Homo sapiens: one gene and its partners. The protein of the gene in region 1 interacts with the protein of each later gene in a pairwise test. Each region holds a gene or a part of one and is shown in the gene's direction. Other genes may lie near its edges.

The links. Proteins that work in one complex are often made in the same cells at the same time.
Region 2: the proteins of LARP7 (region 1) and PRPF40A interact in a two-hybrid assay, tested with the Homo sapiens proteins (one large-scale study listed by BioGRID and IntAct).
Region 3: the proteins of LARP7 (region 1) and OASL interact in binary tests that used the Homo sapiens proteins (3 or more experiments, as listed by UniProt).
Region 4: the proteins of LARP7 (region 1) and DDX21 interact in binary tests that used the Homo sapiens proteins (3 or more experiments, as listed by UniProt).

Annotation. Positions count from the first base shown.
Region 1 is NC_000004.12:112,639,762-112,643,975, forward strand, and holds part of LARP7 (la-related protein 7), read left to right. Parts: intron 1-4,214. UniProt on the Homo sapiens protein: RNA-binding protein that specifically binds distinct small nuclear RNA (snRNAs) and regulates their processing and function.
Region 2 is NC_000002.12:152,675,962-152,679,461, reverse strand, and holds part of PRPF40A (pre-mRNA-processing factor 40 homolog A), read left to right. Parts: coding exon 1-110; intron 111-352; coding exon 353-406; intron 407-1,986; coding exon 1,987-2,011; intron 2,012-2,682; coding exon 2,683-3,057; intron 3,058-3,500.
Region 3 is NC_000012.12:121,025,747-121,029,246, reverse strand, and holds part of OASL (2'-5'-oligoadenylate synthase-like protein), read left to right. Parts: intron 1-1,429; coding exon 1,430-1,671; intron 1,672-3,500.
Region 4 is NC_000010.11:68,980,170-68,982,868, forward strand, and holds part of DDX21 (nucleolar RNA helicase 2), read left to right. Parts: intron 1-1,367; coding exon 1,368-1,412; intron 1,413-2,373; coding exon 2,374-2,643; 3' UTR 2,644-2,699.

The DNA of each region.
Region 1 (4,214 bases):
GGATGGAGATGAGAGCCATTTCAAAAGTCAAACTGATAGGATTTAACAAGAGATTGGATAGAATAATTGGATAGAATTATTGATAATTGGATAATTATCAATAATTTATAATTATAGATTATCAATTATAGAATTATAATTATCAATTATAGAATAATTGATAATTATAGCCTACGTTTGTGTTTGTTCGTTTTTGAGATGGAGACTGAATCTGTCTCCCAGACTGGAGTGCAGTGGTACGATCTCGAATCACTGCAACCTCTGCCTCCTGGGTTCAAGCGATTCTCCTGCCTCAGCCTCCCGAGTAGCTGGCATTACAGGCATGGGCCACCACACCCAGATAATTTTGTTATTTTTAGTAGAGACTGGGTTTCACTTTGTTGGCCAGGCTGGTCTTGAACTTCTGACCTCAAGTGATACACCTGGCTCGGCCTCCCAAAGTGCTGGGATTATAGGCGTGAACCACTGCACCTGGCCTATTTGTATTTTATTTACATCCCACAACCTTACAAAGAATTTGAAATGCTTAACACTTTACAGGTACTTTTAAATTTGTTTTTTTATTCAACAGATACTTAGGTACTGATGAAGTTAAAGTTCCTGCCTTCATAGTGTCTACATTCTGGTGGGATAGGTAGACAATAAAATTAAAATTCCAGGCCGGCCATGGTAGCTCACACCTGTAATCTCAGCACTTTGAGAGGCCCAAATGGGCAGATCACTTGAGGTCAGGAGTTTGAGACCAGCCTGGCCAAAATGATGAAACCGCATCTCTACTGAAAACAAAAATTAGCAGGGTGTGGTGACAGCTGCCTGTAATCCCAGCTACTTAGGAGGCTGAGGCAGGAGAATCACTTGAACCTGTGAGGCAGAAGTTGTAGTGAGCCAAGATTGTGCCACTGCAGTCCAGGCTGCACAACAGACTCCATCTCAATAAATAATTAAAAATAAAAAATAAAGTTATAATTCCAGGTAGTGACAACAAGATACAAGAATAAAAAATAGTGACTGAGGCAGTGGACGGAGTTAAGGTCAGCAGGGAGGGAATATTTTAGATTGAGCGGAAAGAGGTAAGTCTCTCTAAGAAGTGACATTTGCAGAGACCTAAGTGAACAAGGAAGTAATTCATACAGATACGGTAAGGAAGGTAAAGGGAGCAACAAGGGCAAAGGCCCTGAAGTGGGAATGGCTTTAGCATGTTTAAAGAACGAAAAGATGGTTGTTATGTTTGGACTGAGCCTGTTGGCAAGAATTGTGATAGATGAAATTAGAGAGATCCCCAGGCCAGATTATTTAAGATCCAGTCAACCACAGTAAGGTTTTTGGACTTTATTTTGAGTGTGATAAGAAACCTCTGAGCTGGGCGCGGTGGCTCACACCTGTAATCCTAGCACTTCGGGAGGCCAAGGCAGGCAGATCACCTGAGGTCAGGTGGCCAACATGATGAAACCCCGTCTCTACTAAAAATACAAAAAAAAATTAGCCAGGCGTGGTGGCACATGCCTATAGTCCCAGCTACTTGGGAGTTAAGGCAGGAGAATCTCTTGAACCCAGAGGGGGAGGTTGCAGTGAGCCGAGATCGCGCCACTGCACTCCAGCCTGGGTGACAGAGTGAGACTCCGTCTCAGGGAAAAAAAAAAAAAGAAACCTTTGGAGGAGTTTGTGTAAGGAATTGGCATGATCTGATTTACATATTTAAATGGTAATTCTATCTGGAGAATCGATTATAAGGGAAGAAGATTAGAAGCAGGCAGACTAGTAATAAAGTTCTTGTAGTTGTTCAGACAACGCAGTAGTAGCTTGGACCAGGTGCTTATGATGGAGGAAATGAGAATTATTCATATTTGGGATATATTTTAAAGTTAGAGCTAACAGAAATACTGATGAGTTGACCATGAGGTGTAAGGAAAAGGGAAATTAAGAATGATTTTAAGGCTTTTGCCTTTTCAGCAATTTTGTAATTGGTGTTTCTGAGATAGGGAAAATTGGTGGGAGGGGATTGTTAGCACTAGAGAGTCCTATTTTCACCATGTTAATTTTGAGATATCCTTTAGATAAACTAGTGGAGGTGTCAGGTGGACAGTTGAATATTGGAATGGGGAGCTAATGGGAGAAGATAGATTTGTAAAGCATCAGCATAAAGCCAATGAGCTTAAAGCCAGGATCCTCAGAAAGAATGAGTGTGTAAATGAGAAGGAAGCCCAGGACTGAGTCCAATTTAGGCATCATGTAAAGGTGTAGGGCACAGTGGGAGAGGTAGGGTGAAAGGAAATTGAGAAACTGAGATTGCAAAAGGGAATTGAAAAGGAAGAAGACTCGTTTGGAAGCTATATGAAGAAAATATTTTCAAGGAGGGAGTTACCAACTGCATTTGCTGCTGAGAGGTCAAGTAGACAGTGGAGCACATTGAGGAGCTTGTTTGCAGTTTCTCTAGAATGGTGATGAGGAAAACCTGACAGGATGGGTTGAAGTAAGAGCATGAGGTGAAGAACATGGTTGTGTGGTACTCAATGACACCTCATTGTTTTTCTATTATTAATTCTGACCTATAGTTGTGTTTTATGTCTTAAGCTAGCATCACCTAAATATATCATTACTTGTAAAATTTCAAAATTGGTACTTGATTGATCTACTGAAACCTAAAATGCCAAAATGTACTTCTGTTGAGTTTGATGAGAATGCATGTTTAGTTGGAGATTTGAGGTGAAATGCATTAAGGGCTTTGTACCCTCTTACTGGATATCACTTTGAAACACATTATCTATTTCTGTTACTATCAGCAGCATCACTGTAGCAGTTAGAGATTCTAACCAGCAGTCAGACTCAAGAGATGCAAATACTGCTTACCAAAGAAGAGTCAAGGCAAAAGATAGGGTAGATGCAGCTTCTTCATCCCACCAGAGGCCACCAAGCCATTTACCCATATCTAGCAATTACCCAAATTCACTACTTTTTTCTCCCATTTACCCACAACAGGCATGTATGCCTTCCCTAGATAAGGACCATGGTGTATTTAGGACACTTTGACACGTGAAAGCTTTAACCTCTTTTGCCTATCAATCTGTTGTTCTGGTCACGTAGGCATAAGGCCTCCATGCCATCTAATAGCTGCTCCAAACCAGGTGCAACATGGGAAACAGATACAACACCCCCATTAGTCTCTCCAGTTTCCAAGAAGACTGTATTATAGGAGACTGAGGTTATTCTCAAGCAGCCTGTATTATCCCAGGCCTGATATTAATCCTTTGCTCCTATACCACTAGTGATTCAATTCATTCAACAAAATCGAGGCACAATTTATTCAACACATTTTTAAGTGACTGTATGGCAGGGACTGACAATATATCAGTAAACAAACAAAAATCTCTGATTTCATTGATCTTACCATCTAGGAAGGATAAACAACAAAGAAATAAATTGCATAGTGGTGATAGTAATGTTAGAAGATGATAAATGCTATGAACAAAAATAAGGCAGGGGAGTTACTGTGTATGTATCCAGAAATTTGCATTATTAAATATGATTGTGGGAGGGGACCGCACTGAGGTGACATTTAAATAAACACTTGAAGTAGGAGAGCAAGCTGTGTTATCTCTGGGGATATGTGTTTCAAAGAGAACAGGTTTAAAAGACCCCGTTAGACATTGCTGGGTGAGCTTCAAGAAGTGCAAGGACTGTATGGCTGGAGCTGACAAAGCAAAGGGGAAGAGATACTGAAAGTAACTTGAGGAAGGAGGGGGTTAGAAATTGCTGCCCAAGAAATAAACACTGGGATGAGAAGGCCACTTGAAAAGGCTGATTTATGGCTGGGCGCGGTGGCTCACACCTATAATCCCAGCACTTTGGGAGGCTGAGGCTGGCGAATCACCTGAGGTCAGGAGTTCGAGACCAGCCTGGCCAACATGGTGAAACTCTGTCTCTACTAAAAATACAAAAATTAGCCGGGTGTGATTGGCAGTGGTGCCTGTATTCCCAGCTACTTGGGAGGCTGAGGCAGGGAGAATCGCTTGAACCCAGGAGGCAGAGCTTGCAGTAAGCTGAGATCATGCCACTGCACTCCAGCCTGGGCAACAGAGGAAGACTGCCTCAAAGAAAAGAGAAGAGAAGAAGAAAGAGAAGAGAGAAGAGGCTGATTTCTACAGCTTACCAGTTGAATTCTGCCCCTAGAAAGCAGAAATTAACATTTTAAAAATCAAAATTGCCAGGCGCGGCGG
Region 2 (3,500 bases), on another chromosome or scaffold:
TAAATGCCCCTGGAAGGAATACAAATCAGATTCTGGAAAGCCTTACTATTATAATTCTCAAACAAAAGAATCTCGCTGGGCCAAACCTAAAGAACTTGAGGATCTTGAAGGTAAAATGGGGAAAAGTAGTTTTCAATGTATATGTTTTACATATATATGCCATTCACTTTGAAACAATTCCTCCAGAATAGGATTGTTCAAACAAAGGCCTTATTTTTTTTTTTAATTAAATGATTAGAACATTTAAAATGGCGTATAACAGTTTTTTGGGCTCTTATTTTCTTGTTGCTTTAGATCTCAGTTCTGTAGATTTTAAATAGATTTTTATTTGATTTGATTCCACTGAAACTAGGATACCAGAATACCATTGTTGCTGGAAGTCTTATTACAAAATCAAACCTGCATGGTGAGCTGCTTTGATAATTCATTTTCTGTCATACTTAACATTTTTATTAGAGTATGTCACTAATATTCACTAACCATAATTGGATAAATCTGCAGTGAAAAATCTCTAAGAATTCTTTTCATTAAAGGGTTATATTATAAATGAGCTTGTAGCTTTTAAAGTCGTACTTTGGTTTTTAGAAAAAAGATCGTTTATCATTCAATTGAACAAGGAGTTCATATACAAAATTTCCAAGTCCTACTATGAGTGGTGCATACATAGAACATGTGTTTTAACTCATTTCATGGTAATAGATAGTGGAGAACCTTGAATCTGTATCCATTTATATTTTGTTAGTATATTGTCAGACTATATATTTAATGCTAGTTTTGTTTAGCACAGTGTTGCAAAATAGCCTTGATATGTTCTTTATGGAAGAATTAAGGTAAACCAAGTATCATGCCTTACTTATAAAGGGAAAATTTTTCAACATTGGAACTAATCAGAATAACCCTTAAAAATCTAGAAATACTTAATACTAAATATAAAACCTAAGACTTAAAATAGAGATAATAAGTAAGGATTGAAAATCTAGTTTTTATACTCACTTCTAATAGAATCTAGTGTCATAAATTATACAAAACTAGAAGCAGCAGATTGTAGGAGAATGGGGCTAATAAAGTAGATAGTGATGTGGAATGACATCTGGCAGGAAAAGAGAATAAAAATTTCCTAAAAGACTGTCATATTAAGCCCCTTTACCTTTTCCTTGTGCCACCTCATTAGATAGATAGATCATCATTGTATCAGAAAAATGTTAATTTATATTATTAATGATAACTTTGTAAGTATGTTTTTTCAGCCATCCTAAACAGATTTTCAGAAATGTTTTTCTTTAAAGGGTGATAAGTTTTAAAAATTTTTTTTATAAAGAGTTAGGCTTGTATTATTACTTAATGTGGAGAACCTCATTCCCTAGTAATGTTAAATAAAAGGTATTTTTGTTACATCCAAAGGAAAATGTACTGGAATGAAAAATGAAATTGTGCAGATCTTTAAAGCTCAGTTTAAGTTACCTATACTAGCATTGGCTAATAATAATATTGTAGATAGGTAGATTCCCAGTTGATCATTTATGAATTATCAAGCTCATTTCTGATATAACCCTACTACAAATAGTTGGTGTGCGTAACTATCTATCTACTTGTCAATGCTAGTATATATGTGCTGGAATTTTATAATAAATTTGATCCCATTTTGAATTTAGTATCTTAAAAATATATCAAACTAGTCTCATCCCTGAAGAAAATACAGTTTTCATCCAGAATTATGCAGATACTTTCATAGAGTTGTTGCAGCAGCCTTTGGGAAAGCAGCAGCATGGAATAAGCTTTCCTAGTAATTACTGTTATTTAAGTTTGTTGTATTCTTTATTTGCTATACTAGACTTTCGGAGCAAGAATTTGTTCTGTAAAAGTGATTTTTTATTTTTTAGGATGGTAAATGAAATCCTATTGTATGATACTTTATCTTCTTTTAAAGTTTGTTTTCAGTGATTATATTTTAAAACTAGTAGATGACTTTTTTTCTCTCTTTAATAGCAATGATCAAAGCTGAAGAAAGCAGGTAAGCAATTTTGGACATCAATTTTTATTTACAAATTTGGTCTCTCCTATGATATCCTTGTGTTTTCTCAATTTTCATAATACAAATAATTAACATGTTAGGCTTGATATTTTGATGTCCTTGTAGCATTTTGTTGAGGAAAAATTAGGGAGGGGGATATTTACTCAATTTGATGTTTTGCTATACAGTAATTATTAGAATTTGGACTGTATCCCTTAACAAATTAAGAAGACTGTGTTACAGAAGAGTCCCAAATTCCGTTTGAGTTGATTAGGGAATGGACGAAATATATCTGTGTATCTCTTCCTTTATATAGGGTTTCCTCTAAATGGGCAAACTGGAGAAAATTTAAAGTTCTTAGAGAACTTTCTAATACAGGTCATTTTTCGTGGTGTAAATACAGTCTGATAGATTGGGTATTTTATAAATGTGAACGCTTACTGAACTTTTGAGTGCCTGTAATACATTACCATGAATGTTAACGGAATTAAAGTAGTACAGTTACATTCTGTGGTTTTAAAATCTTTTTTAATGGGCTTGGCATTTCTTGCCGTTTTTTCCTTCAATTATTTTTCTTATTATTTGATTTTATGACCATTTTAAAGCTACCTTTATTTAGCTTTCTGATTACAATAATGAAATGACCAGTGTTCTCTTTTTTTAATGTATAGTAAGCAAGAAGAGTGCACCACAACATCAACAGCCCCAGTCCCTACAACAGAAATTCCGACCACAATGAGCACCATGGCTGCTGCCGAAGCAGCAGCTGCTGTTGTTGCAGCAGCAGCAGCGGCAGCAGCAGCAGCAGCTGCAGCCAATGCTAATGCTTCCACTTCTGCTTCTAATACTGTCAGTGGAACTGTTCCAGTTGTTCCTGAGCCTGAAGTTACTTCCATTGTTGCTACTGTTGTAGATAATGAGAATACAGTAACTATTTCAACTGAGGAACAAGCACAACTTACTAGTACCCCTGCTATTCAGGATCAAAGTGTGGAAGTATCCAGTAATACTGGAGAAGAAACATCTAAGCAAGAAACTGTAGCTGAGTAAGTTTAGTAACTTGTCTTCTGAAAATCAGTACCAGATTGCATTAAATAAAAGTAATTGCCAGTTTAGTTAGTGGCCATTAATAGTTTAAATAAATTTTTTTGAGAATCGTAATATCACCGTTAAGACAGTTGATCAGTTTTCAGGCCGAATTTTGGAGGGTTATGCCAGCAAACTTGAAAAATAGTTCAGTGAAATTTTAACAAGTAGAGCCAAGGCTAGGGAGTTGGGGCACAAATCTAAAAGATTGCCAAAAACCTTAGTAAGCAAGATACATCATATTTTGATGCAATATTTTACATCAGATCAGTGCAAAAATTCATGATTAACAAACTATCAGTATTTTCAGTTAAGACAGGTGTATTGTTTCTTCTTTGGTTATTGGTGTTTTGGGTTTCAACCTCCTATAAATCAGTTAAAAAAATACAGCTTTGTAGAAAAA
Region 3 (3,500 bases), on another chromosome or scaffold:
TAGCTTTTTTTTTTCTCCTCTGACTTTGGGATGGGAGCTAATATTCATATATGATGGCCATAGGAAAATATGTCAGTTTTACTTCCACAAATCAAACTACTGAATATTTGACCAAAATTTTTCACTTTCTGGCTAAATATCAATGTATCAGTGAAATTCTTTTTTTTTTTTTTTTTTTTTTTCTGAGACAAGTTCTCACTCTTGCCCAGGCTGGAGTGCAGTGGCATGATCTTGGTTCACTGCAACCTCCTCCTCCTGGGTTCAAGCGATTCTCCCGCCTCAGCCTCCCAAGTAGCTGGGATTACAGGCACCTGCCACCACACCTGGCTAATTTTTGTATTTTTAGTAGAGACGGGGTTTCACCATGTTGGCCAAGCTGGTCTCGAACTCCTGGCCTCAAGTGATCCACCCGCCTCGGCCTCCCAAGGTGCTGGGATTACGGGCGGGAGGCACTGCGCCCGGCCTCAGTGAGATTCTTAACACAGGAAGTGACCACTGTCAGTTAAGATGCTTCCTTTTGCAAGTAAGAGAAAAACACAAAAACCAACTCAAACTGGCTTAAACAATAAAGGGAATTATCAGCTTATGTAGGAAAACCCCTAAACAGTAGGGGGGGCGGGCGGGGGGGGCGGGTTTCAGGCACTGGTGAGGGCACTGGCTCTGTTTCTCTGGAATTCTCTCAGCTTCTCATTCCTCTATATGTCAGCTTGGTCCTTTGGCTTGTTTCCCTCTTGGTGGCAAAATGGCCACAACTATTCCTGCCCTCATATTCACACATGGGAGGACTTCTCTTCTTTCAACCACTGAACAAAAGAACTAGGCTTTACTCTAGTTGAGCCAACTTAGATCGCATGCCTTCTCTTGAAGCAATCACTTGCAAGGGGGAAAGGTTTATGCTGATAGGACTGTGCCAGTCAGGGCCCATCCTGGAGCTGCGGGTGGGGGTCAACCCCTTCCAAACATCATGGCTACTATGCAATGGGGAAGGAAAGAATGTCTGCTAGAGAGGCAACCCCAATCTTCACTACAGAATCTCACCTATTACCATTTTTTCCCTCTATCTAAGGAAACCTTTCCTTTCTTTTAAGAAACATTTCTCAGCAGCTCAATACATTAAAATAGATTTAAATGGGACTGCTTAGGCTAGAATGTTTGTGACCGAGCGCAATCTGCTCATACCTGTTCATAAGTTCATTCCAGGAGTTACATCTGTTGAGCATATATTGAAGCCCAATGGACTAACTCAGCCCTTTAATTCTAAAATGGTGAAACCTATGTCTAGAGATGGAATGTGACATGGCCAAGGTCACACAGCCAGTAGGCAGCAGAGCCAGGACTAGAACTTGGATTTCTCAGCTTCTGGTCCAACGCCATCCTTACACAGAATCTTAGGGTCTCTCTCTCTCTGTCTTCCCATCTCTTTCAACAGTATGTGAAAGCCAGGTCCCCCAGAGCCAATCTGCCCCCTCTCTATGCTCTTGAACTTCTAACCATCTATGCCTGGGAAATGGGTACTGAAGAAGACGAGAATTTCATGTTGGACGAAGGCTTCACCACTGTGATGGACCTGCTCCTGGAGTATGAAGTCATCTGTATCTACTGGACCAAGTACTACACACTCCACAATGCAATCATTGAGGATTGTGTCAGAAAACAGCTCAAAAAAGAGAGGTACTGGACCACTGTTTGCCCACCAAATCTTACAGAAAAAAAGAGAGACGGGCTAGTGTAACGTGGCATAGAGTTTTATGGATTGGCTGTATTAAGCAGTAAGGCTGCCACCATAGTTGAGCATCGACCTCCCACACCAACACAGCTGGCATCTCAAGTTGGTGGCTTATCAAAGTCACTGGGGGGCCATGGGGCGGGTAGAAGCCTGTTCCTTGTTTCCTAAGCCACCCTCCACCTTAGCTTGGCCTTCTTGCTCTCTGAAGACCATTTCAGTGCTTTGTAGGAGCTAGCATGGGAAAATGGAAAGAATCTTGGAGACTCAAGTTTAAATCCCAGCTCAGCCATTTTCCTACTGCTATGAGCCTCAATCCCTTATCCATAAGACAGGAGTAAACTGGAACCTACGACATAGGATTGATGTAAGGGTTGGAGAAAATCTGTGTTAAGGATCCACAATATCTAGCATCTGGCAGATGCTGAGTAAATGCTTATATTGGAGCATGTGCTGTCAGCGTCCCATTCATATCCTCTCGGCCTTTACCGTTCTAGGGAAGGTTGGTTCCACTTCCAGCTGTCAGCACCTGCATCCCTTTGCCAGCAGACCCACTCTGAGAAGAGCCCTCCACCAGATCTGGTGGGAGTTGGTGGATAAATACCACAGCTCCCTCACCCAAAAGATGGAAGGAATCTGGGTCTCATTGCGTAACTTTTTTTTTTTTTTTTTAAGACAGAGTTTTGCTCTGTCACCCAGGGTGGAGTGCAGTGGCGCAATCTCCACTCATTGCAACCTCTGCCTCCTGGGTTCGAGTGATTCCCCTCCCTCAGGCTTCTGAGTAGCTGAGATTACAGGCGCCTACAACCCACACCCAGCTGATTTTTGTATTTTTGTAGAGACAGTGCTTTGCCATGTTGGCCAGGCTGGTCTCAAACTCCTGACCTCAGGTGATGCGCCTGCCTTGGCCTCCCAAAGTACTGGGCTTACAGGCGTGAGCCACCGCACTGGGCCCCATTCCATACTCTTTCCTAAAGATCGCCTCCAGTGGACCACAGTAGTAATTACTTCAATACCCACTCTTTGTTGTCTGCCTTCCCTTATCTGTCTCACTGTCTCACTCCCTTATTTGTGCTTCCTGGGATCACTTTCCAAATAAGCCAAATCCTTATCTGGGGATCTGCTTCAGGGGAAGCCCAACCCAGACAACTCTCTGTGTTAGAAGCTCTGGGCCTGTGTAAGCAACATCACAGTATTTAGTGTTCTGTTATGTAGTATTGGGTCTCTTTTGTAAGGAAGAAAAGCCAGGTCTGCTCATGAAAAGAGGATTTATTATAACCATGGCCAGAAAAATCGAGAAAGCATCAGGACCTGAGACTCCCTCTCTCTCTCTGTCACTCTCTCTCATGAACTACAGCACTTTTCCCCTCAGCCTCTGCTTCTCTCTCCACACCTGTCCGGCTCCCCTCTGCCTCCCAGGTATAAGGGATCTCCATCATCCCCATGTCCAAACCCCAGAGAGAACCAGTCTGATTCCTGGTCACGGGACACAGACCCCATGTGTTGGGTCACCTGCCAGCCAACAGAATGAGCCACTTTAGATCAGTGACCCCACCCCATAGGACAGCCTGGCACTTTCAGGCAGGACTGTTTTAGGGAGCAGTCAGGGTTGGGAGGAGCCAGCCTGGAGCCCAAAGTCCAGTTCATTCCAGTAGCCTGTGTCACATTCGATTACACAGATGAAGTCGCAGCTCCCTCCCAAGCCCTGGAGTACAAAGGGCTGGGTTTTTTTTGTTTGTTTTTGGGTTTTGTTTTTTTTTTTTTAATGGAGTCTTGC
Region 4 (2,699 bases), on another chromosome or scaffold:
GCAGAGGTTGCGGTGAGCCGAGATCGCGCCATTACACTCCAGCTTGGGCAACAAGAGTGAAACTCCGTCTTAAAAAAAAAATTTTATATATATATAAATCTTTTCCTCCAAAGTAGCTTTTATGACTTTGCTTAGCCTTAAATCTTACCAGGCAATGTTAGGGGCGTCTTTATCTGTACTTCAGAGTCTTTAGGACACATGTTTATGCAGGTAAACTTTTACCTTGCTGTGTTTGCTAATGGAGAGCCTCAAGAACACTCAAAGGCAAAAACTGTTTTCTAATTACCTCTATACCCAGTGAATGCCTGGGATTATACTCTACTTCGTAAATATGTAAGCGAAGATTCCCATGAATGGCAAAATCCACCAGTAGGTGATGATACCTATGTTATGATTGGGTAAATTTTGGGGTGAAAGGGGTGTTCCTTATAAAATATTGCAGTTGAAGACAGCAGGGAGAGGAGTGCCTGTATTAGTTAACACATAGTTTGACTATATTTTTAGACGATTTCCTTGATTGGAGAGGATGGCACTTAATATTAAAGATGGTGTCCTGGCTAGGTGCCATGGCTCACACCTGTAATCTCAGTATTTTGGGAGGCTGAGCTGGGAAGATAATTCTTGAGACCAGCCTGGGTAATGTAGTGAGACCCTGTCTCTACCAAAAAAAAAAAAAAAAAAAAGCCAGATGTAGTGGCATGCACCTGTAGGAATTCAAAGTTACAGTGAGTTGTTAATTGCACCACTGCACTCCAGCCTAGGCAGTAGAGCAAGACCCTATCTTAAGAGGGAAAAAAAAAAGATGGTGTCCTGTATTATTTTTTTCATACTCTTACAGAAGGCTGAATTAAGAAAAACCAGAAAATCAACAATAGAAGATCACTTGTTTTTCTGCTTTTAATTAGGTCATTCTGAATAGCTGGCATTGCTTTTCTGATGGAAGGCAGTATATAGTTTAGACTATAGGTTTTAGAGCCATACAGACTAGATTTTAAATACTTGTGCCATTTAATAGCTGTGGGGCCTTAGACAAGTCAGCTAACCTTTCCAAGCCTGTTTGCTCAGCAATAAAATGTAGCTAATAGCCACTAGGGGGTTAGCACAGTGTAATAGCTAAGACTCTGTCTATAGTTAGAAAGTTCTAAATCATTTGGGGTTCTTTTTTTCAATGTTCCTTGTCTTTCTGCAGTGTACTTTTGGCAGCTATAATGTATTAGCTTTGGTCTAAAGTTCATCTAAAATTATACCTGGTGGTTTTTTTGCTTTATGTTTTTTGTTTTCTTTTTTTTAAAGAATACGTGGTCTTTTAAAGGGAGTATTTTTCATGTGCGTTGGTTGGATTAACTTCCATTTGCTTTGATTTCTAGGGTGTTTGCTTTGATGTACCTACCGCATCAGTAACAGAAATACAGGTATTCTTTTCCCTTAGATTTTAAAGTTAACATACCTAAATTGTAGAATGTTAATTATGAAAATAGAGAATAATAGATTGGGAAACAATAGTTCTGGTTCCTTTAGTAAGAGATAATCGATAATTAAATTTTGGAATATTCCCCCCTAACTTTTTAATTCTGATATTTTTGTAGTTGAACCCACCTGGTTTCTATATTTCCTTTATACAAAGTTGTGAACGATATCCAGCTCTCCCCACCCTTTAACACTTATATATGGTATATAGATTTTGTGTGTGTGTGTGTGTGTGTGCATGTGTGTGTGTGTTTTCAGACAGAGTCTCGCTCTGTCGCCCAGGCTGGAGTGCAGTGGTGCAATCTCGGTTCACTGCTACCTCCGCCTCCCGGGTTCAAGCGATTCTCTTGCCTCAGCTTCCCAAGTAGCTGGGATTATAGGCCCATCACTACCCCCAGCTAATTTTTTGTATTTTTAGTAGAGACGGGGGTTTCGCCATGTTGGCCAGGCTGGTCTCGAACTCCTGACCGCGGGTGATCCACCCACCTCCCAAAGTGCTGGAATTACAGGCATGAGCCACCACGTCCAGCCTACAGGTTTTCATAGACATTTAAAATTGTTACATCTTTATTCAATACTGTGAGAAATGTGTGCTTAATATATTTGTTTTATTACCTTTGGCTGTAGATACCCTGTAGCAATTGAGTTGAATAAATGGTTTAATAACTTAATAAATGAAGTAGTGATGAGGGCTATTTCTCATAATGAAACTGTGTTTTCCCACACTTCAGGGACACTGGCTTTTGGACCATGATGGGTGGCCAGTGTTATTTTTGACCAGTGACTTGTTAAGCACTTATGTTATCACCTTTTCTTTGAAGAAGTGGCAAATATTTTGTTTTTCTCATGCTTTTTAAAAATTGAATACTAATTAAAGCACACAAAAACAAAACATTCTCTCAACAGGAGAAATGGCATGATTCACGACGCTGGCAGCTCTCTGTGGCCACAGAGCAACCAGAACTGGAAGGACCACGGGAAGGATATGGAGGCTTCAGGGGACAGCGGGAAGGCAGTCGAGGCTTCAGGGGACAGCGGGACGGAAACAGAAGATTCAGAGGACAGCGGGAAGGCAGTAGAGGCCCGAGAGGACAGCGATCAGGAGGTGGCAACAAAAGTAACAGATCCCAAAACAAAGGCCAGAAGCGGAGTTTCAGTAAAGCATTTGGTCAATAATTAGAAATAGAAGATTTATATAGCAAAAAGAGAATGATGTTTGGCAATATAGAACT